Linked DNA regions of Homo sapiens: all the other regions are linked to region 3. Evidence: fine-mapped expression QTL. A gene starts in region 3. Each other region holds a variant in brackets. All regions are shown on one strand. Distances are from middle to middle. Region 1 overlaps MYCBP2 (MYC binding protein 2). Region 2 overlaps MYCBP2 (MYC binding protein 2). Region 3 holds the start of CLN5 (CLN5 lysosomal BMP synthase).

What was found. PIP is the estimated chance that this variant, and not a neighbour inherited with it, causes the effect.
Region 1: its variant is the best candidate, but not a certain one, in a credible set for the expression of CLN5 in monocytes (Fairfax 2014, PIP 0.55).
Region 2: its variant is the best candidate, but not a certain one, in a credible set for the expression of CLN5 in blood mononuclear cells (TOPMed, PIP 0.65).

The regions. Positions count from the first base shown.
Region 1 is chr13:77,052,993-77,061,274 of GRCh38, forward strand. It overlaps MYCBP2 (MYC binding protein 2), which reads right to left. Exons shown (of 83, transcript NM_015057.5): 76 at 8,177-8,282; 77 at 6,531-6,634; 78 at 5,226-5,414; 79 at 3,994-4,101; 80 at 2,566-2,775. Among named protein-coding and RNA genes, the nearest start is that of MYCBP2-AS1, 18 kb to the right of the region's middle. The variant T/G (reference allele first, on the strand shown) is at 3,867.
Region 2 is chr13:77,150,273-77,158,272 of GRCh38, forward strand. MYCBP2 (MYC binding protein 2) reads right to left here. Exons shown (of 83, transcript NM_015057.5): 45 at 7,665-7,837; 46 at 5,786-5,930; 47 at 462-677. Among named protein-coding and RNA genes, the nearest start is that of MYCBP2-AS2, 73 kb to the left of the region's middle. The variant T/C (reference allele first, on the strand shown) is at 4,884.
Region 3 is chr13:76,987,442-76,995,723 of GRCh38, forward strand. It overlaps CLN5 (CLN5 lysosomal BMP synthase), which reads left to right and starts at 4,640. Exons shown (of 4, transcript NM_006493.4): 1 at 4,640-4,830; 2 at 7,622-7,787. The coding sequence starts at 4,658. It also overlaps the pseudogene DHX9P1. RefSeq lists silencers at 3,974-4,063, 4,154-4,223, 4,684-4,923 and an enhancer at 4,945-6,144.

The DNA of each region.
Region 1 (8,282 bases), 66 kb after region 3:
CCAGGCGTGGTGGTGAGGACCTGTGGTCCCAGCTACTGAGAAGGCTGAGGTGGGAGGCTTGTTTGAGCCCAGGAGGTGGAGGCTGCAGTAAGCTGAGATCATGCCACTGCACTCCAGCCTGGGTGATATGGTGAGACCCCGTCTCAAAAAAAAAAAAAAGGCAAATTTGATAATTCTGTTCAGAATTCTGCTCATAGTTATAAAGTTATGCAGTAGGCAGGAACTCAACAGTTTCCAATACAGACACTTGCATAAATAGAATTTGAATAAATAAAATTATCATGAATAAATAAAAATATCATGATGGGTGATTTATCTGTATTTGCCCTGGGCAGAGATTAAGTGAGGCCAAGGAACTGGGACAATTTGCATGCACTGATTGTCTCATAGTCAAAAAGCTATGTCCGGATTGGGAATAAACAAACTGAGTCAATATAAATCTATTATCTATACTAGAAAAACAGGTCCAAAGACAGGATCCATTGATGCAGAGGTTATAAACGGTCGTTCACCAGCTAAACCTAACCCTGGAAGTATTTCGGTTTGTCTTGGGGACTGCTTACTCCAGCTGTTTCACTTTTCTATATCCTCTGCTTGGCTTCCTAAGCATTTGACTGCTACCCTGTAATAGCACAATATTCATTTATAATGTTTAGTACATGAAACACACAGAAATACTATTTTATTATTTGTAACAATACAAGCTTCATAAATGTGCACTATTGGGTGTGCATGTATTTATCTGCCTTTCTGGCTATCATCTCTCTACTTAGACATCCATTCATCCTCTGTATTTTCTTTTTGCTACATTGGGAGACTATGCACCTTTCTCATGTAGTCATTCTTTCACTCATTTATTCATTCTCCACTTAACTTTGTATCTAGTAAGTGCAAAGTACTAGAGATAGAAAAATGAAAAAACATACTCTTTGTCCTCATGGAACTTATCAAGTAGGGCAGAGAGATAAGTGGTCCAGTAGTCATAATGCAGAATAGGGAGTTCTATGCTAGATGCCTGCAAGATACCAAAATCATGTGGTGGTGGTGTTGATGGAAGTGAGATGGGGGTATGTTACAGAGGAGGTGAAACCTGAGCTGAAGCCCGAGGTATGACAAGACAGATTAGGCTCTGCATGACAGCATGTGTGTATGGGGTTGGGGGTGGCAGGTCAGAGTAAAATATGCAGGGGGAGGTAGAGAAGAGCATCCTTTAAACACCAATGGCCTGTGCAATGGCATGGGGGTGTCAGTGGGTGAGCAGACAGGGCTGAGTTTGGGAAATGCAAGTTATTTGGTATGTGGCAGCAAATGGAGAGCAAATGGTAGCATCTTGGGAGATGAGACTGGAGAGGGAGACTGGGCTACCGTATTATAAGTAGAAGAGTGATCCAGTTAGATTTTAGATCTAGAAGTATTAATTAGCAGCAGTGTAAGGGATGCAACAGAGGAATTAGGGGTTCTACACCCGAGCTCAGGAAGAAGGCTACTGTAATTACCAAGGAAAATGATTAGGTTTGCTGGAGATGTAATGGAAAGAAAAAAGGACTCAAGAGAGATCTGGAGACAGAATTGATAGGATTTTGTCAATAAAGATCAGAGATTGGTAAAGTCTTTTTTTTTTTTTTTGAGACAGGGTCTCACTATGTCACCCAGGCTGGACTGCAGTGGCACAAACACAGCTCATTGCAGCCTCAACCCCCTGGACTCAAGCGATTCCCCTGCCTCAGTCCCCCAAGTAGCTGGGACTACAGGCAGATGCCAACCTACCTGTCTAATTTTTGTATTTCTTGTAGAGATGGGGTTTTGCCATCTTGCCCTGGGTGGTCTCAAACTCCAGAGCTCAAGAAATCTGCCCACCTTGGCCTCCCAAAGTGCTGGGATTACAGGTGTGAGCCACTGTGCCCGGCCAAGATTGATGAATATAATACCTGACATGTGAACTCTGAAGTATGTGTGAGAGATCCAAATGTCTGGTACGCAGTTGGTTATTTGTAACTAAATCTCAAAAATTTTGGGGGGTCATAAACATATACATGGTAGGTGAAGGTATAGATGTAAAAGAGGTCACCCAAGGTAAGGAAGTATTTATTAAGTAGGCAAGAATGGAGCTCTAGGAAAACAAATATGTAAGGGGTAGGTTAAAAAAAAAAAAAGAAGAAGTAGTTAAAGATAAATGACTAGAAAGGAAGGAGGACAGAAAAAGAGTGTGTTGTCCTGGAAGCCAAGGAATTAAGGGTTTTAAGGAAGGAATGGTTAGCAGAGTCAAGTGAGAGAAGTTTATTCGAGAAGGAATTGCCCTGGGCCAACAGGTTATTACTGATGGGAAGCAGCTTGTATACAGAAATACTGCATGTTTCGAAAAGTTTGTTCAGGTTAAATAAAGAATCCCCAAACAAGTTAAGTAAACAAGTTTTACTGGAAACATTGGGAAACATTGTACCAAGCTATCTTATTTTTAACTTCAGGCTTAAGATGGAATAATTAGATATCACTGTACAATTTGAATTCTTAATCATATAGGTAAGCTCTAGTTTTTAAAACTTCTCAGTATAATTTATAGCATACCTTTCTGCATTTGTAGCACACATAATATGCATATCTATTCATTGCATAGCCAGCTGGGTCATTATAAAACCTCACACCAGGAGTTGTGATAGCTTCACTCTTATGCAGACCTTCATATTCCAATCTCATTAAGGCTTTTCTTCTGACATCCTCATAGAGTTCTTTTATTGGATCAAGTAGGTCTTTTAGTACTATGTGATTAATTTTGTTCTGCAATAAAAAATGAACACTCTTTAGCAGAATCATTTATTAACCAACTCAACAAACACTTAGCATGCACCTAAGTGCCAAGCATTGTGCTAGAAGATAACCAGACAGCACACATATTCTAAATAAAATGTCATTTGAAAAACATTCTGTAAATTCTTTAGAAGCCCATATTTTTCCAAGAGCAGGGAAAATGGGGCAAATGGGACACAGAGCATGAAAATTCCATTTTATTAGCTTTATATTTCCTGCGTCTGAAATATATCTCCTGTTGCCCTAGCTATTGTGGAAACAAAGTTACCTTGTTGCCACAAATAAGACACGCTCTGTGTTTGGTGTGTGTGTGTGTGTGTGTGTGTGTGTGTGTGTGTGTGTGTGTGTGTGTGTGTGTGTGTTTTGCTTCCTTGAGGGGAAGGCAGAACGCCAGGTGACAGAAGTGAACAGGTAGTATTTGCTGTAAAACTTTCATGTATCTATTAATATTTGTAGCACCATATGATAGGGGAGAGCAAAATACTACAATCTTTTTGATTATTCCTCAGTCTATCTAGACAATGATTGTGCTAAGTCTTTCCACATTCTACCCTTTATATTAGTTTGCAAATACGAAGATAAGAAAATAGGGAGAGCTTAATAGAACAAAAAGGGGCGATGAATTAATAGGGAAAGTACTGCCACATTCTTCAAAAACAGCTTTTTGTTAATCATTATTAGCTTGCCAAAACAACTTCCTACTTGCTGACTACCTTTGTACAAATGTGTCAAAATGCCAAGAACTTTCTCCTTGTTTTAACTAAGCTCTAAAAGAATCTGTTCTAGTGGTACTGAGGGTTCCAATTTCACTCTTTAATGGCAGGTATCAGTTTCTACAAACACCAGAGGATCATTCTTCTTTTTGGTAGCCGTTGTCATGTTATGTCAACTGAGCTCTCTAGTGGTCTGAGAGTAGAGATGCATGCCCTTTAATGCATCACGATGTTTAAATGAACTTTCTCATGTAATATGTTTAACAGAATGTAATCAGTTTTAAATGGACAATTACTGTTTTGAGATGCATTATAACAGAGAGATTATATTCTCAGGTTCCACATGAA[T/G]GAGAAGGGAAGAAACTGCTAGGGGCTGGTGGGTAAAACCAAGAGATACTGACATATGTTTATTTTGAAAGGTGAAAAGAAAGAACAAAAGAAAAAGAAAGTACATGATTTCAGATTCTTTCCATACCTTGCAAATGGGACAAGATATAAATCCAAATGTTATCCTTGGGCCAAGCCATCGATTTTCTAATACTCGCCGACAGCACTGTAAGTGGAATATGTGACTACAATCCAGCTTAAATAAACAAAAGAAAAGGACATAAGCAAATATAATAATGATAAACAGTTGAGTGACTGGGAGATTATTTAATGCAAGGCACTACTTAAAGCAGGTAAGAGAAAAATCAAGAAATTTACTATAATGAAAATTCATTGGGACACTGAAATTGGGACATTATTATTTACTAAATTTCATTACAGTAAATTGGGATACTATTAACTAGGCCTTTGGCTTCTCCTGCTTTTTAACATTCATGCCACTTATATAAAGTAAGCTAGGTTAGGAAAAAAAGTAAAATTATTCAATTTTGTATCTCACAGAAAGAAGAAGAAATTACTGACTTATGATTTTCTTTTGGAGACTATTATTATCTTGGAATCATGAGAACTGAAAATATAAGCAATGGGCAAAAGTTAAAAAAACCTATTTAGTGCACAGTAACTTGTGTATGTATAGAAGTATGTATCATTATGTATAGATCAATTATATAATGTTGTAAAAATACCATTCTGGATTTTGGAAATTAAGAAGAGCCTTAGCTACTGGGGGATAATCTAATTATTTCCCCCTGGCTTCTGAATATTTTATACATTCTGTTGATTACAGAGGTTCACACAAATCACAAATTAAAGCTGAGCATGCAACATAGAAAGCACAGCATAAAGAGGCAGAATTTGCTCCTCATTAGCCTGGTACATGTATAGATTAAAAGAACACTTCTGCCTAGTGATATAAAAAAAGATTTCAATCAACTGCTTTTTTTTTTTTTTTTTTTTTTGAGACAGAGTCTCGCTCTGTCACCAGGCTGCAGTGCAGTGGTGCCATCTCAGATCACTGCAAGCTCCGTCTCCTGGCTTCATGCCATTCTCCTGACTCAGCCTCCTGAGTAGCTGGGACTACAGGCACCCACCACCACGCCCAGCTAATTTTTTTGTATTTTTGTAGTAGAGACGGGGTCTCACTGTGTTAGCCAGGATGGTCTCGATCTCCTGACCTCGTGATCCACCTGCCTCGGCCTCCCAAAGTGCTGGGATTACAGGCATGAGCCACTGCGCCCGGCCTCAATCAATGTTTATTTGACAAATATATTCCCCATCTTAATGTCTGGATACATTCAATACTTTAAAAGCTGAGGCAACCTGAATGGCTGGTGCTGCCGAGAGCGCTTCGGTGAAACATATCATGCACATGTCATCGGCGTCTTGCTTCAGGCTTGTGGCACTTTTGTCACAGCCGTGTAGACAGGGCAGACAGTGCTCTTCGTTTTTAACACCCCCGCATGGATGGCCACAAGGATGCGTCTTACTACAGGCTATCTTAGCGTATTCCTGTTAAAGATGAATTACAATGTTACACAAGTATGTAAAAAAGCACACATTCTGGTAATTTTCCTTATTATATAAATTTCCAAAGATTACTTTCCCACAGGAAGTATCTATGCAGGCCAAGTAACAACAAAGTAAAGTTATTTCTAATCTTTGTTTGAATATAAATTAGGCTTCTTAACAAAGTTTTTTTTTTTTGATGCGATTTTTAAAAAATGCCACTCTCTATAAAGGGAATGCTGATAAGTGAATTATAATTTCATATTTGTCATCATGCACAGCTATAAAGCAAAAAGTTCCTGGCTGGGAGTCGTGGCTTACACCTGTAATCCCAGCACTTTGGGAGGCTGAGGTGGGCAGATCACGAGATCAGGAGTTTGAGACCAGCCTGACCAATATGGTGAAACCCCATCTCTACTAAAAATACAAAAATTAACCAGGCATGGTGGCGCGCGCCTGTAATCCCAGCTACTTAGGAAGCTGAGGCAGGAGAATCGCTTGAACCCGGGAGGCGGAGGTTGCAGTGAGCCGAGATCGTGCCACTGTACTCCAGCCTGGGCGACACAGCCAGACTCCGTCTCAAAAAAATAAAAAATAAAAAAAGTTCCCCAATGTATAATTTCCCAGTCACCACTCTCCGCATCACCAAAATGCAGATTTTTTTTTTTTTTAAAAAGGTACCTTTGACTCTCTGAGCATATCCACATTCTTATTAATTGAGAAACCAAAAACATTTGGACAACATAGAATATGTTTATATATGTTCAGGATTAAAGAACTCTTAGATGTTGAAAATGTATTTTAAGGAAATAAGTGAATAATGTCTGTAAGAGATAAAGGAAATACAGTTCATAAATTTTTAACTGTTTCTAGTACAAAAGTAGATATTAAATACATATGATCATGGTAACTGAGAAACATACAAAAAGAGTGTGGTTTGGGCTTGAGAGCCTTATTTGACCCATTCTTCAACTTTGGTAAGGCATTTGATGCTTCACATAGGTAATACACTCATTTAGGAAGCTGGAGTGACGCTGAGCTAAAACTCTTTTCTGTATGAAGTAAAGGTGTCACAGGGGAACATGGACAATGGGATGGCCTGTGTCACTATATACTCACCTGGCAATCTGCATCAGAACAAACACTGCCAACAGCAGATAACTCTGTTCCACTCCTGGAACCACAGAAGCGACATGCTTCTGAGCTACTCGTGGTGGGTTTGCCTAGGTTCAAGCAGAAAAATAAAAATCCTTCTTATGGATGTTTTCTAGATATGTTAACAGAACTAAATTTTAAAAAGCAAACTAGGTTTGTATAAGTTGCTATCCTTGGGAAATCAGCCTGACAGTTTTAGAACGGAAGGTTTCTAAGTTGTCCTAATTATAAAGTAAATAATGACACACAAAAAAAGAAATTAAAGACCTATCTGAAGCCAAATACACTCTCGACTAATATTTTTTTTCAGTGAAAGAAACAGACTAGACTTCTAGTCAAGTTACCAGACTGAGCAGCTGTTACAAGCCCCTGACTCCAAATGCACAATACCATAAAAAATATGATAACCAAAAATTAAATAAAAATACACAGAAGTTAGGGAAATCTTTAACTATATATAACAAAATTATAAGGCATGGTATAAAGCCTATCATCAGAGTATGAAACTTGAAAAACAGAATTCCTACCTCAGGAACTCTGCAATTTGAAAAGGAATTTAAATATGTTTGAAATACTTAAAGAAGAAACAGAATCAATAAAACAAGAACAGAGCAATAAGAAAAAGAACGTGAAGATTTGAAAATTACAGACCAAGCTGATTTTTAAACACAGATATAAAAATCTAACTATAATTAATATCAATATATTGAATTCAGCAATATTTACAGAAAAATCTATTTAAAAAGGATGGTTTACAAGGATGGTTTGACATTAGAACATTTATTAATGCAGTATACAGCACTGACAGATTATAGGAGGAAGAAATCAACTATGAGAAAAGAAGGTCATGCTCTTGCAGCATGCAAAGTCACCCTAGAATTAAATTGATTCGGATTTACACCTAACTCCAACACTGGAAGTTCGTGTCAGTCAAATGGCAGACTGCAGATGTGCTGAAAACTGAGAATTTGTAAGATTCAACATAACTTTGAACTAGGAATATACAAGATTTACTTTAGAAAAGCAGCAAAATGAAAACTATGTTTTAGAGATAAAAATACATTTAACATACATAGGTTACCTTTTGTTTTATGTCTATTCATTTTTGTTAATTATTTTATTGCTATCAATGGAAACAGTACCATTCACAACACCTTCAGAAGCATTAGGTCTACAAAAACCTCTAAATATCATAAAATCATACAACCTTATAATAAATAGAGATCTTAGTGATCATCTAGTGCAGCAATTTTTATTGTGGGGCAACAACTAGCAGAACTAGAAGGGAATTATCAATAGAAATGTATTTTATCTATGGAGCCCCATTAGTTGTGATCCTCTCACTTTATAAATGAAGTCAATGAGTTCCAGAGGTTAAGTGACTTGCTCGACACCACACAGCTAGTTAGTGGCAAATCAGGTTTCTTGACTTTTGGTCTAATGCTCTCTTCACCATAGAACACTCTATATATTTAGTAAATATATAGATCAATGATGTCATAATTAAACATCAGAATATCACTCAAAATTATTCACAGTTTAATCAGTTGGCACGGTTTAATCTTTTTTTGTGGGTTTTAAAGGCATGGCTCAATCTTTAAACCTTTTACCTGTGTGTTCTCGGAATTCCACCATTGCCTTCATTGTTTTAGAATCTGCCAGTGCCATCAACCAGAACAATTTGGTTCTACCACAACCTTCATGAAGGTCAACCTT
Region 2 (8,000 bases), 160 kb after region 3:
AACTGCAAATAGACAAGTACTTAGAAATTTTATTTTATTTTTATTTTTTTGTAGAGATGGGGTCTCACTACATTACTGAGGCTGGTCTCGAACTCTTGGCCTCAAGTGATGTTCCCTCCTTGGCCTCCCAAAGCCCTGGGATTATAGGTGTGGGCCACTGTTCCTGGTCAGAAGTAGACAAGTACTTTCACAGGAACTGAAACTCAGCCTAATCCATCTGTATCTCTGATTCGATTAACTTGATCTGTAATTGGTGATCCCCTCTGGACATCTGCCAAAAACCAATGAAAATCCTCTCTGAAGACAGGATAACATCATCTTAATAAGTGTTGCTGCAAATTTAATATCCATCAAATGCTCTTTGGACTTACAATTTCATGTCTGCATCTGAATCACTGAAATGTTGGTTAAATAAACAAATGCTGAAAACTAAAATTTTTCTGATAAGTAAAATAAATTACCTTCATCATTGTTATGGCAATATATCGAGCTTCCTTCACTATCATTGGTTCATATGAAACATCTAGCTTTGGTGATGCCAGCCCTCCATAAGTCATGTCAGTATTAGAAGATGCAGCTGTTACTGCAGGACTGCCAGGAATCCTTTGAGGTTTCTTTGCTTGATCTTGTTGTAAAGACATTTTTTTCTGAGAAACAGGGACAGCTTTCACTTCCACCTAAACATGGTATTATAGAAACCAAATACCATTATTATTTAATTGTCACTGACATCAAAATAAGCAACTTACTATTATAAACTCATAATTATGTATACTTTATGTTAGCATTGGTCTGTCTCTGGCATTCCCTTCAAAGGCTTATTGAAAAGAGTTCAAATGACCTCAAGATGGGTTGACAATATGAACCATGAACACGGTGTAAAAACAAGGCCTCATAGTTTTGGAATACATAATCAGAGATATCAAAACATAAAAACAAATGCACCACTAATAAAGTACAGGAAAAGATAGTGGAATGAATCTACATTAAGTTATTGCAGGGACTAACAAATTATTTTATCAGGTAATGCAAGTGTAAATGCTTTCCCACAATCTCAGCACATTTTAAAGCACTAATGTCAGTTTGAGCTGCACTGTTCTACAGAAGAAAATGTACTCTATTTATAGAAGTTTCAAAAATTAACACTTAATAAAACAAATCTTATACCTAAAGCCCAAATATGTTTCTTTACTCGGGTGAAGAAAGAATATTATTAGACAGCCCTATCACCAACATCAACATTTGATTTAAGCAATCTATTAAATAATTAAACTTTGCAACTCACTTTCTTTAAGAATAAAATGGGACTATCTTTCGTCCACTAACTCTACAGTATAGATGCAAAAAACAGATTCGTTAATGGATGTTAATATACTGAAAATACAAATTGTCTTATAAAAATACCTTTTAGATATATTTTCCAGGAATTATAACTTTGCAACTCAATTTCTTCAACAAAACGGGACTATCTTTGATCTACTAACTCTACTATTTCATCTACTAACTACTATTTCTGAAAAATACTTTTTAGAAATATTTCCCAGAAATTATAAGAAAACATTGTTTTTATTTGTTTATGCATTGGCAGAAAAACACTTGACCCCTAGGCAACCACAAATGTACACACAATTTGAATACCACTTTAGTTCTTCAGCAGGTATCACCATTCTGAGCTTTACTCAAAGTTTCTGCTGCTCCCTACAGACAATAGTTTTGTGGTTGGCAAGAACAGGTAATTCAACAGAATTGTCACAGAAATAGAAAAAGTGCAGAGATAAAAGTGATAGTATTTTTAAGTAATTGAGAGCTACCTCAGAACTACAGACTGTCTTTATGTTTATTGTTCTTAACAACGCGATTCTATGGAATCAGTAGTTTGAGACTTTCGCTATTTATATAATGTTAGGCACAGGTGACAAATATGTTCCATTAAGTGACCACTATCTTCAGGTGAGGTTACAAGAGATCAGTATTTGGACTGACACAAACCCCTGGAAATATTAAAAACCCATTCTTATATTTAAAAAATGGCAGTTTACAGGTATATGGTTAAAATTTCAACTCAAACACATGTGCCAGCATAAAAAGCTTTAAACTTTAAACAATTAAAAAATCTGAAGATGATACAGACAGGAGTCAGGGATATACTGGATAGGAGAAGGTGGTTCCCTGGCAAAGGCCCCACTCTCAAGCCTGGAAACCATGACCCTAAATGAGAACAGTTTATCCTTGTATTCCGCCTAAATGTTGCCTTTTTGGCCAGCCCTGCCCCCCTACCCTATGCCCCTATAAATCCCAGACTTCAGCTAGCAAAGAGACAAGTGGCGAATACCAAGAGGAGAAGCAGCAACTGATGAGACGCGCGGCTTAACCTCAGATGGCACCACTTAGGAGAGGAGCATGGCTGGAGACGGCTGGGCTTCAGGGAAATATCACCTTCTTCTCACACCATGCCCTTTCTAGCTCCCCTTCTGCTGAGAGCCACTTCCACCGTTTGATAAAATCCGCCGTGGCTGGGCGCGGTGGCTCACGCCTGTAATCCCAGCACTTTTGGAGTCTGAGGCGGGCGAATCACAAGGTCAGGAGATCGAGACCATCCTGGCTAACACGGTGAAACCCCGTCTCTACTAAAAATACAAAAAATTAGCCAGGCGTGGTGGCGGGTGCCTGTAGTCTCAGCTACTCGGGAGGCTGAGGCAGGAGAATGGAGTGAACCCAGGAAGCGGAGCTTGCAGTGAGCTGAAATCGTGCCACTGTACTCCAGCCTGGGCGACAGAGCGAGACTCTGTCTCAAAAAAAAAAAAAAAAAAAAAAAATCTGCTGTATTCACGCATTCATCGCGTTTCAAACCATTCATATGACCTGATTCTTCCTGAATGCCAGACAAGAATTCAGGACACACTGGGTGCAGGAACCCAAAAAGGCTGTCATGCTGATTCTTCACTGAGCTGTTTAACACTTAGCCATCCACAGACAACAAAGCTAAAAAAGCATTAATTGTGACACACTCCTAGATGCTGCTGTGGGGCTGGAGCCCAGAGGTGCTTGCCTGGGCCCTGGCACCTGCTTGCCTCAGTGCTCGCCATCCTGCAAGGGGTTTGAGTGCAGCAGTCAAGTAAATGAGCCACACGACACCCACGTCCCAAGTCCCACAAAGGGGTCAAGGGAACTCTCCTGTCTCAAACATATTTGATATTAAATTACAGACACTATTTTTATACATACTATTTCAATTTAACCTTTCTGTAAGCAACTATATTTACCCTAAGTATTTAATAAATTATCATTAGAGTCTATGTGTGTATGCACCATGAACCTTGAAGTAAATCACTGAATAATTTTATACTTTAAGAAAACTGAGACATTATAGAATAACCATTCTGCTTTCTTTTACAAACTGTGTTACTTAAAAAAAAAGTTATTCTTGTATTTCCTATGTGACTTTCTCTTGTCAATAAATAAGATTTCCTTAAAATAAACTTTTTTTTTTAATTCACAGGAAGTTTCAAAAATAGATGAAATGTCCTATGTACCCTTCACTCAGGTTCCCCCAATGGCTACATTTTATCCAACACTGTCAGACACTGATGGTACTGAACCAAAACCAGGAAATTGACATTGGTACAATATGTGTGTTTAGTTCTAACTCATTTTATCACAGGTAGGGAACAGTCATTTTATAAGTAAAAAATTATAACAATAACACTTGTTGCTTTTGAAAGCATTTTGGAACTCATTGAAATATTAGCTGCAAATCAACTTTTATGCTTCAAATAATTAGCTATTACTGCATAAAGATTTTAACAATTTATGAACAGTCTAAAGTGCTCCTAAGACTTCATATACTAATAGGCTGAAAGTAAAATAGGTTAAATTAATTTTGTTTCCAGCTAATATAATATGATATTAATACATTAAACATCAGTAGGAGCACAAATCACTTCTTCTAGATAGTATTTAGAGTGGTTTTCTAGAAAGTTTCTAAATTGGATAAATCTGACATGAATTTAGAGCACACTGAGTAAGAGGTTTAAGTCAAGGAAAGATAGTAGGAGAAGCAAATATATGGAGGAGAAAGAAGAGGAAGAAAAGAAGGAAAAAGGAGAAGGAGGTGAAAGGGAAAGAGGAGAGGGAAGAAGAGAGGAAAAAAAAAAGCAGATCCATCATATGGTTAAAAAAAGAACTCTAAGATGAAAAGAAAAAAAGATGAAGTCTGACTTTCAAATGCAAGATATAAACATACCAGATATCAAAAGAGATAATAAAAGGTGCAAAGGAGAAAACACAAGAAAGAAAATACAACTAAAGAAATATCAGAAGCGTAACAGTATGAACATGGTATTAGAATGTTGTCACATGAATAAAAAACTTAATCTTGAGGGTTCAAAGATTGGATTTAACAACTCACTACATTGAGAAATTCATCAGTGAATACACAATATACAAGCCCTTCAACATCTTAACGTGTATTGTACTGTGATCAAAAATCTGTCCTTGAGTAGTAATTTTTTTCATATCACTATCAGGATAACTTTATTTTTAAATCTTTTTTTCTTATAATTTGTGATGCTTTTTGCATTGTATAGAATAATTCCAAGTAGGCATGAACTCAGTTTGTGAAGGGTATGACTTGCCTTAAAAAATAAGATAGAGAAAGCATCAGAGTATAGCATATTATGTATGTATGTGTGTATGTATATATAAAGTATATTATATGTACTTAACATATGCTATTACATAGACACTATTCCATCATATATTATATTTATATCTTTGGGTTATAATAAAAATTCTGACTATGGATCATGGCCAAATATTTGAAAGATACTGCTAAAAGACTGATTTTGATTTAGTATCAGGGTTGAAACCTTTTCCATACAGTT[T/C]TATTTACTGGTCTTAAGTCATGTAAGCAATGTGTTCTTATTTTTTACTTAGGTAAGATGCTACATTGGCATTGTACTTCTTCACGCTATAAATGAAAGAATGCATGAAGTAGTTGAAATAGTTCTACTGAAAATAATATTGAGGCAAAATTAGCTACCCAATGAGCAAAAAGGATTTTGTGGCTTAATCAGCTCTAAGCTTCAAACAACCAATCACTCTATAAGACAACTTTGAAGGAGGAAAGGGCTGGGGACTGCCTATATAAAATTTTATTCAATATAATTTTTTCAGAAATAAAAGTTTTAAATGAGATATTCATATTAACAGATTAAATCACAAATAATTATGTATAATATGCTCTGAAACATTATTATTAATATTTCAGGTAAGAGGTATCCTAAAAACTCTATATTCATCAATATGGTATACAACTATTTCAATTCCTCATTCTTTTACAATCTAAACTCATATATTTCTAACTTAATGAGTGTTATTTTTAAAATGTGGTTTCAGTAATACCAAACACAGAACGTACTTGAGTCTTTCAAAACTATACACAAAATTTAAAAATGTATTCTTTCATGCATTTATTCAATCAATACATATTGAGGGGCTTCACTGTATGTGTCTAGCACTCTTTAGATGGATACTTTCTTATCCCTCCTTTGAGTCCCCGTAACAGGTAGCAAAATGTAAAGAACAAACTCACAAAAAAAACAGGTGTAACTTGGACACTTGGGGACTAATTAATATAAACAAGTCATTTAAACAAACTTTCAGCATCACCCTTTATATAAAGAGGGTAGAACAAATGGACTCTCAGCACTTGGCATTTCTAAAATTTTATCAGTCATTGCAGCCAGTATATAGATGTCTGCTAATTTAATCCAGTTATAATTACCTTCATATTGGGAACATGTACCACATCCCCATACTGGTCTTTTGTTTGAACAGTTATGGTGGTAGGCCAACCACAACGAATATCATCCTTATTCAGGATCAAAGATGTTTTCTGAGGATCCGCATATGAATCTGGCTGAAGCCACCTAACAGTAATGAAAAACAAATAAACAAAACCCCAAACACTGATCAGCATCTTCAACAATTAATATAAAATTAAGCCAAATGAACAAAACTTGTATCAAACAAAATGCTAAAACATTATCTTCATTTCCAACTCAGTGATAATCATGAGTGTCTCCCTCAGAAACTGTTAAGGACAAATTCATTTAAAAAACATGCCTAAGCACAGGAGATTTCTGATATTTAAATACAGTATAAAAATACTTTTTAAAACCAGGAAACTTGAAATTTTAACTATGGCTAATTTAAAATCACCAAGAACACGAATGTAGGTTGTGCATAATTTGAAGTCCTGAGCAGGCTCATTCTCTCTGAAGGAGCTCCACCTTACTCTGCCATCCTGCAAGCCTGGAAAAAGCAGTGTCTCTGTAAAAGCAGGGGTAGAAATGGCCCTCTACTTGCCTGACAGCAGCCAGGTTCAAGGTGTACTGCCCATCTTTTTTTCACAGTTTCTCAACTATCTTCCTCATTACCTTGCTTTCCACCTAAAATGCATCAATGTTGTGTAATTTGTGATGTTCATTCCTGAATTCATTCTGTGATCTACACATTCAAGTTGTCCTGTGAGCTGAGTAATAAGTAATTCTACCATGCATTACATAAAAACGTCTGCATAGTATAGTAGTGAGGCTGACTTAAGTGATTTGACATTCCTCTCCAATCACTATTTTGTGATTTTTAAAAACTAAAGAGTAATCTCTGCAATTTTAAAATTAAAACCAGAAAAAAGTTGGGATTTTTTTTTTACTAGTAAAATCATGCAGGCCAGCATATTTTTTTCCCTTTTCATCCTAAAAACAAAAAGCAACAAAAATAATCAATTAACAACTATAATAAATTTAATTTAATTAGTTAATTTTTTTTTGAGATAGGGTCTTGCTCTGTTGCCCAAGCTGGTTGCAGTGGCACAATCACAGCAACCTCCGCCTCTAGGGTTTGAGCAATCCTCCCACCTCAGCCTCCAAGAAGCTGGGACTACAGGTGTGTGCCACCATGCTTGGCTAATTTTTGTATTTTTTGCAGAGACAGGGTTTCACCATGGATTGCACTGGCACAATCAAAGCAACCTCTGCCTCCAGGGTTTGAGCAATCCTTCCACCTCAGCCTCCAAGTAGCTGGGACTACAGGAGTGTGCCACCATGCCTGGCTAATTTTTGTATTTTTTGTAGACACAGGATTTCACCATGTTGGCCAGACTTGTCTTCAACTCCTATGCTCTAGCAATCCACTTACCTCAGCCTCCTAAAGTGCTGGGATTACAGGCATGAGCCATTGCACCTGGTCTTATCATATACTATCATAACTATTCCAGCCTGGGCAACATGGGGAAACTCTGTTTCTACAAAAAATACAAAAAAGAAAAATAGCCGGGTGTGGTGGCATATCTGTAATCCCAGCTACCTGGGAGGCTGAGGCACAAGAATCGCTTGAGTCCAGGAAGTGGAGGTTGCAGTGAGCTGAGATCATGCCACTGCACTCCAGCCTGGGCAACACAGTGAGACCCTCTCTCTCAAAAACAAACAAACAAACAACCGCCAAACAAAAATATTAACTATCATTTTATATTTCAGCAAGTTAAACATACATAAACCAGACTTTTTTAAAGTAGTATTTTAATATTCTAATGACTCCCCTCTTTCAGAAATGAAGAAAGATGAAAGCCCTAAAATAAAGTAAGTAACTTAAAGTACATTTACCTTGCAAGCCTTCCACCACTTGATCCTGGGACACAGGCAATAAAATCATCCAGAAAAGACTGTTCATTGCTTTGGATTTGGAGTGGTAAATTTCCCTCAAGTGCTTCTAATATAGTTGGTGAATGAGAAAGAGCTAGACCCTTTCCAAGAATTCCAGAATGGGTTTTGCACACCTGTTAAGTAAAAAAGAATATTTATATATTCTTAAAAATAAAACTTTAATTACATAAAATTTTTCAACATGCAGATACTTTCAGATAGGCCTTTACGGAGAAATCATTTTCTCCACGTACCCCACTGTTCCTTCTTTTAACCCACAGAATAGGAAATTCCTAG
Region 3 (8,282 bases):
ATGATGATAATGGTGTGTATTTTCTATGTGGGAGATGCTATCTGTACCATTCCTGCTGCTACCTGCTTTCCAGAGCCTTTTATAAATGAAGGAAAGTGGCTGGGCTACAACCATTGAAATTTTGCTGGAAACGGATTTTCTCATCATGTAGCCCTTTTATCAGTATTCCAAGCCGGAGATGATACTAGAATGGGTGGAGAAGAAGCAGAAATACGTTTTTGTGCGCACAAAAGACTTCATATGGCTACACTAAGAATGACTTGGGAAGTCAAAGTTCAGCTCAAAGAGATTCTGATTAATTCTGGGTTTCCAGAAGATTGTTTGGTGACACAAGTGTTTACTAACACTGGACCAGATAATAATTTGGATGTTGTTATCTCTCTTCCTGGCCTTTGGTGTGTACCCCAATGTATGCTATCATAAGGAAAAGACAAAGATTCTCACCACTGAAGGGTGTAATGCACTTATCCACAAATCATCTGTTAATTGTCCTTTTAGTAGCCAAGACATGAAGTACCCATCTCCCTTCTTTGCATTTGGTGAAAAGATTCGAACTCGAGCCATCTCTGCTAAAGGCATGACTTTAGTCACCCCACTACAGTTGCTTCTCTTTGCCTCCAAGAAAGTCCAATCTGATGGGCAGATTGTGCTTGCAGATGACTGGATTAAACTGCAAATATCTCATGAAGCTGCTGCCTGCATCACCGCTCTCCAGGCAGCCACTGAGGCTCTGGTTGTTGAAGTAACCAAACAACCTGCTATCATCAGCCAGTTGGACCCCGTAAATGAAAGTATACTGAACATGATCCGTCAAATCTCTAGACCCTCAGCTGCTGATATCAACCTTATGATTGGCAGTACATGGTATGGAGATGGTCCAGGTCCTCCTAAGATGGCCCAATATGACAATGGAAGCGGATATAGAAGGGGAGGTTCTAGTTATGGCAGTGAAGGCTATGGCAGTGGCTATAGCAGTGGAGGCTATCGTAGCGGAGGCTATGGTGGCAGCTCCAGCTCCTGTCGGGCAGGATATGGTGCAGGTGTTGGTGGAGGCTATAGAGAAGTTTCCTGAGGTGGCTATAGAGGCAACTCTGGAGGAGATTACAGAGGGCCTAGTAGAGGCTACAGATGATCTGGGGGATTCCAGCGAGGAGGTGGTAGGGGGGCCTATGGAACTGGCTACTTTGGACAAGGAAGAGAAGGTGGCATCTGTTAAGGCTTGGTTATGTCAGTTCCTGTGTGTAGACAGTAAGAAAAAAAAAGCCATGCTATGTGTGACATTTTTTTCCAATGTTTATTTCCCACCAAAAAGTAAATGCATTTTAACCCATTCTGTGGTTCACTGTAGCTTAAGGAAACCAAGCATATAGATGCATTAGTGATTTTGTTTATATTATGTAAAATGTAACGATCTATCTTAGAAATACCACAGTTTGTATTTTTCTTTAAGGAGTAAAGATTTGTCTTTAAAAATAACTTGATATTTTCCTGGCTTTCATTTAATACAATGGAAAATAAAGTATTACACGAAAAAAAAATTTTTTCTTAGAGACAGTATCTCATTATGTTACCCAGGCTGAAGTGCAGTGGCTATTCACAGGCACGATTATAGCTCACTATAGCCTCAAAGTCCTGGGTTCAAGCCTCCTGAGTAGCTAGAACTTCAGGTACATGCCACCTTGCCTGGCTTCCTGCTTTCTTATTCACTAAGAAACTTTGTTCTCTAAAATCATAGATTAGAGACAACTTCGTGTTTGAAATTACATCAGTAACAATAAAATATCCCACCTTTGCTTGAAGGACCTCAGTCATTCCACACAGAGAATTGGCCTCAATTTACAACCCAGATGTCAAGCTTCTGATAAGGGGTTTCCAGACACAAAACTCCATCGCTATTTTAACTTCATAGTCTCCAAGGAAATAGGCCCTTCATCCACTTTGCAGTCTAGACCTAGAGCCTGTGTGTTGATGGCAGCAGCAGGCCGTCTGGAGCAGCCACTACCATCATTGACATACAGCCTTGTTTTGCTTTGAGTCTACCAAAATACTGCTTATTTAAATTTCATCTCAACTCCACACTTCCCCAGAATCCTATCACTCTATCTGGGGAGATGCCATGTGGTCCAGGCAGTCTTAGGCTGAATGGGCAAGGATCCAAGGGAAACCAATTAGATTGAAATTAGTTCTGTCTGTGGGCCCTCAAGATTTAAAAGCCATGGACAAGGGGGAAGCAACCAGTATCGACCAGCGATAATCTATGAGCACCTTCAGCTTGGGGTGTGGGGTCATAGACAAAAAGAATGGGGTTTAATCAGTGTTCCCATCCAAGGCAAAACCAGACCAGAAGAATGGGAGCTACCAGGAGGCTGAGTTAAGACCAATACTAGGGCCAGGCATGGTGACTACAGCCTGTAATCCCAGCACTTTTGGAGGCCGAGGCAGGTGGATTACTTGAGGTCAGGAGTTCGAGACCAGCCTGGCCAACATGGTGAAACCTCGTCTCTACCAAAAAAAAAAAAAAAAATTACAACTGGCACACACTTGTACCCAGCCACTAGGGAGGCTGAGGCAGGAGAATTGCTTGAACCCGGGAGGCGGAGGTTGCAGTGAGCCGAAATCACATCACTGCACTCCAGGCTGGGTGACAGAAGGAGACTCCGTCTCCAAAAAAATAAAAAATAAAAACCAATACTAGGAAGTGCTTTCTTACCATGAAAGCTCCCTGCACACAGAATGAAGAGACAGATGGCAGAAGCAAGACCAGAGGCCTCCACCACTGAACAAGGTCAACCTGAATTTGTTTTTGTAGCTCTGGGAAGTCCTGAACTGAATGGGAGGTTCTACTGTGGCCCTCTACTAACAGTAGATGGAACCTGGAACCATCTACTGTTAATTGTCCTTTTAGTAGCCAAGACATGAAGTACCTATCTCCCTTCTTTGTATTTGGTGAAAAGATTTGAACTCGAGCCATCTCTGCTAAAGGCATGACTTTAGTCACCCCACTGCAGTTGCTTCTCTTTGCCTCCAAGAAAGTCCAATCTGATGGGCAGATTGTGCTTGCAGATGACTGGATTAAACTGCAAATATCTCATGAAGCTGCTGCCTGCATCACCGCTCTCCAGGCAGCCACGGAGGCTCTGGTTGTTGAGGCCATCTACTGTGGCCCTCATACATCATACTGTGTATGGTTCCAGGATTTGTAAATGCTCTAATCAATGTTTTTTTTTTTTTTTAAAGCTGTTCCTGCTGATTGCTTTTTAAGCTAGGCTCAAGTGTGGGGCCACGGAATCCTTCAGGTGCCCTTCAAATCAGACATTACATTTCAGCTCTCAGGGCTAGAATGCTTCCCCCTCTTATCTTGGGCAGGTCTTTGAAGAAGCCAGTTTAGCCTTGGTAATTTTGAATTTGGCCATAGTATACGGAGGAGAGCTAGGTAGCTATCAAAACGCTTAGACAAACGTATGGTAAAATGCAGCCCAGCCTGAACCTCCGCAAAACCCCCAAACCTGGAGCAGCAAGTGGGCAAAGGAGTGTGTGTTTGGGGCAGGGTACTGAGTCCCATATGTAATCAAGAGACCTGGAGGGCCCAAGGAAGTCAGTGACACCCCCACAAGCTACATATCCTCCAATGGATTGTGGTGGTCATCTCCGGCTACCGAAGCCACCTTGCTTATTCCCATAGGCTTACAAACATTATGATGCTTCACACGAGTTGTGGGTGAAGTGAAGGAATTGGAAAGTCCCGGTCTAAGGCCCTGCAAAACTGCTGTCTGGTAAAAACAAGTGACTATGGCAAGGCCCTGAATGTACTACGTATAGACTTAAGTCAGTATTTGTGCCTAACAGCAAAGCATGCCACAAGAGGCTCCTCAAAAGCCGGGTAATTGATGCCATTGTTTTCTTGACCTAGTTGAAGAGTCAAAGAAGAGAAGGTGATGCAGAAACTTCTTTCCAGTGAAGTGACAGATCCAAGCAAGGAACACCTGCCTGTGAGGGGAGCGGTAGGGGAGGGGGTAGATTCGGCAGCACTCGGGTAGTGGCAGGGACCACATATTGTCGGTGTTAACCACTGTTATCACTGGCCCAGGTCGAGTGAGGACGAGTCATTTCCCCACTAAGCACTTGGGGAGTGGCAGGGACCACATATTGTCAGTGTTAACCACTGTTATGACTGGCCCAGGTCGGGTGACGACGAGCCATTTCCGCACTATTGTCCCTTCTTCCTCACTGCACCCCCAGCCCTGCACCCTCAGCTCCAAATACACATTCTCGTTCACTCAACGTTTGTTGACACCTAGCGTGGGCCCTGTGGGATGGGGTAAAAGTTCGGTGTTGGGAGGAGCCCCGGTGACAGATTTTTGGTTTTGGTGGTGGCTTTTGGGCAAGGACAGGTCAATTCATAAAAGATGACGCCCCAGGTCTGGATCGAATTCTCCTGGGAGCCAGACCAAAGCACCTTCCTGGACTGCAAAGTGTGGAAGCCGCCGCGGGCCGGGCGCGGGGAGGTGTCATGCGCCGGAACCTGCGCTTGGGGCCAAGCTCTGGAGCTGACGCGCAGGGGCAAGGCGCCCCGCGTCCCGGACTGGCGGCTCCGCGCATGCTCCTCCCACCGGCGTCGCAGGCCTCGAGAGGCTCCGGAAGTACTGGGTGCAGCCTGATGGCGCAGGAGGTAGACACGGCACAGGGCGCCGAGATGCGGCGGGGCGCGGGCGCGGCTCGGGGACGCGCTTCCTGGTGCTGGGCCCTGGCGCTGCTTTGGCTCGCGGTGGTTCCGGGCTGGTCCCGGGTCTCGGGCATCCCCTCCCGGCGCCACTGGCCGGTGCCCTACAAGTGAGTGCGGCGGCGCGCGCACTGTCGGGGTTGGGGTCGGCGTTGACGATGGGGGATGGGGTGCTGGGGCGGGGACCCCTGCTCACCGTGGTTTGTGTCGGGTCACGAGATGGTGCGGGGACAGCGCCGGGTGACGCTCGGAGCGCACTTGAGAGCAAAGTTGAGGACTGGGGAGTCGCAGCCGCTCGTTACGTGCAGCCCTGGGACCTTTCGTCCCCTCTGGTCACTTGCGGCAGACTCAGGACAGTCCTGAATCGTGGAAGAAGAAAAGGAGAGTAATGTTATTTAATGGAGGGACTTCTGGGTACAAGTAGCTGATTTCTTGAGTAGTTTAAAAACACTGTCTATCGCATTTATTTATATCATGCACTGTCGTTAGTTATTACCGCGGAACATTTGGTACAATTTACTGGGCGACCAACTCGCTCTGGTTTGAACCTGATCAGAACCTGATCCGAAGTCCTTATTGGGACTTCCCAGTTTTGCCCTCAAAAGTCGCGCATCCCGGGAATCCCCGTCTCCTGCAGTCCTGGTTAGACCGGGAAGATTGTCACCGCTTTTGTCCAGTCTTCAGCCTGGAGGTAGGACGCCGGTCCTAAGTCGGGGACAGAGCCCGCACACCTGGGAGGTCGATTCCAGCCTTTGACAGAGAAGACACAGCCTCCGGCGGTCAGAGATAGCTAAACACAGAGAAAGAAAACATGGTGTCAACATCAGGCAGGAGAAAGACCAGCAGTTTTTGAAAACAGCTATTTTTCTTTAAACCAAAAGCATCATTGGACATAATTTTAACTTACTAGCATAAGTAATCAACAGCTAAAACTGCACACAACAAACCTGAAAAAAACAGCTATTTTGTATGACAGTATGAGTGGGAAGGAGTTCTGCCTGCTGCGGGTCAAATCTGGCTCTGTCATCACCAGGGATCTTGGGAAAGTTACTCAGAATCTCTGTGCCCACATGCCCTGAGTCAAAAAATAGGAATAGTGGTAGCACGTACCTCATAGGTTTGCTGGAAGGATTAAATCTAGTAAAATGCCAGCTGTTGTCAAACCTAGATAGTGTATTCTGCTCACTGAAATGTTTACAACACTTTTTTGTTTTGTGTGATATACTACGTGGAAAGAGAAGTTTGTGGTTGAAGCTAGTTTTCTGGAAAATGTTAATAATAAAATGTTTGTAAGAAGTCAAAATTACTCAATAGAACAAGAATTGTAAATCCAAACGATTTGATTTAACATTAGGGCAAGGTGTTGACTATGGCTTTTTAGTGGATTTTTTTTTTAAGTCTCAGATATTAAGTACGTGCTCCCATCTAATTCCCTCAATTGAATATAATATTTAAGTTTATTAAGTTCACACTTAAATTACCTTTGAACTAAAATAGATTTTGCTGTGTCAGTGAAATCTCCATGTGATTATGTATTTGTTTAAACCAGGTAAGTGCCTATAAAACACTGTACCCAAGTAGCAGAAACTTTTGGGAGCGTCGTTAATAGTTTCGATTAGCATAAAGATTTTAACTTCTTAAGTTAAAATAGAAATTTTTGTTGATTTGTTAAGATTTGTTAGATCTGGCTACAACCTTGGGGATCTAGGATTCTTAGATAGAAGCTGTTGTCGCCACCACTTCTTTCTTTCCCAGTGCCAGATTATAGGTGACCAGTGTGTCTGTTGAGCTGAATTCAGCTGCAGTGCCCCTCGAGTCCTATTGCTGTGGCCTTCTCCGGTCTTCTTTTCTTGCCTGCATTGTTGAGGTCACCTTCTAACTGATCTCTCATGTTTTATTTGGCCTCTCTCCATACCCTCTTTTAATTCGTGAAATAAGGTTTACTTTATAGCAAATTCAGTCCTGTCAGATCTGCTACTTAACATCCTTTAAGTTTAGCCCTCCCCAATTATAAGGCAGGGAATTCCATGCACATTCTCCTAGTGACAAAATGACAGCCCCTGCCAGTCTCTTCCGTCTCCATTCCTGCGTCGAGGCCTGAAATCCAGTCTTCCGTACCTACCGGAGACCAAATGTGCCAGGCTTGTCTTACAATACTTAACATTTCCTCTGCCTTTCTGTCTTAACCTTCTAATCAACTACATTAAAAACCTAGGCCCGGCCTTCATCTCTTTCTTTGCCCTCCCCACCCCATTCATCCCATACCTGGTTAACAATGATTTGTCCTTCCTGTGTGCCCATAGGACTCATTCCTTTAGTCTAGCACATACCACACTCATTACTTGTTCAGTGTCTTTCCAGCTCCCACCCACAGTTCCATGAGAAAGGGAACAGTGTTTTAATTTTTGTTTCCCTCCTTCTTACTATAGTTCACTATATATGTAGTGGAGCCTCAATAAATATTGGTTGAATGAATGTTAATTCGTAAGTAAATATAAAATGTATTCTGTTACTCATAATTATCTGAATAATCTTAATGTATGGACTGTTTGTAAAATTGAACACATTGGAAAAATGTTCATTTATTCTGTAAACATTTGCAAATGTCTACTATGATCTGGAGCTATAAAAATTTTAAGACAAAATTCCTGTCTTCAAAATTTTCACAGTGGGATCAGGGAACAGGGAAGCCCGTATTTATCAGAGTGCTTTTAGTTTATCATTTGCTATTAAAAACATTATTGGAAGTTTGTTCACAAGATAACAAAATGTGTGTTTATATTTATTAACTATGGTCCGACCTTTGAATGGTCCCCTAAAAATGTTACTGGATTCTAAAAGACGTGAGAAGAATCAGATTCATTTTAGAATCTAAGTAGATGGTTTCTTTTTCTTTATTAGGCGCTTTGACTTCCGTCCAAAACCTGATCCTTATTGTCAAGCTAAGTATACTTTCTGTCCAACTGGCTCACCTATCCCAGTTATGGAGGGTGATGATGACATTGAAGTTTTTCGATTACAAGCCCCAGTATGGGAATTTAAATATGGAGACCTCCTGGGACACTTGGTAAGGATGCATCTTGGTCTTATAACTTTGGTTAATTCAATGATTTGGTTATTAAGTTGATTTTTAAGGAGTAATCACTATTTAGATGGCTGACTTTAGATCATGTTGGTGTTTGTCTTAGTACATTTAAAATGAGTAGTCAAAAATAGTTACTATCAGATTTTGTAATCTTGACAACAACAAATGTAATCACCATTATCCATTGTAATATTATGAATCTGAAACCAGCTCCTGTACCTAGCTCCTGGAAGGTGAGAAGAGGCCCAGAAGTGGCAGGGCAGGCAGGTAACACCTCTTGATTTCCATACTCTGTTGTAGTCACTTTTCCAGGTTAACCCATCACCATGTGAGGTCTGTAGAGCTGCTTCCAGAGACTGGCATGGGGGCTCCTCACACTTATTCTAAGCTCTAAGGAAATTATCAGCTTGTCCACATAACATGCAGGCCTCCTATTTGAGATGAGCCAAATAGGGGTGTAGTGGCCAAAGCTGGGGT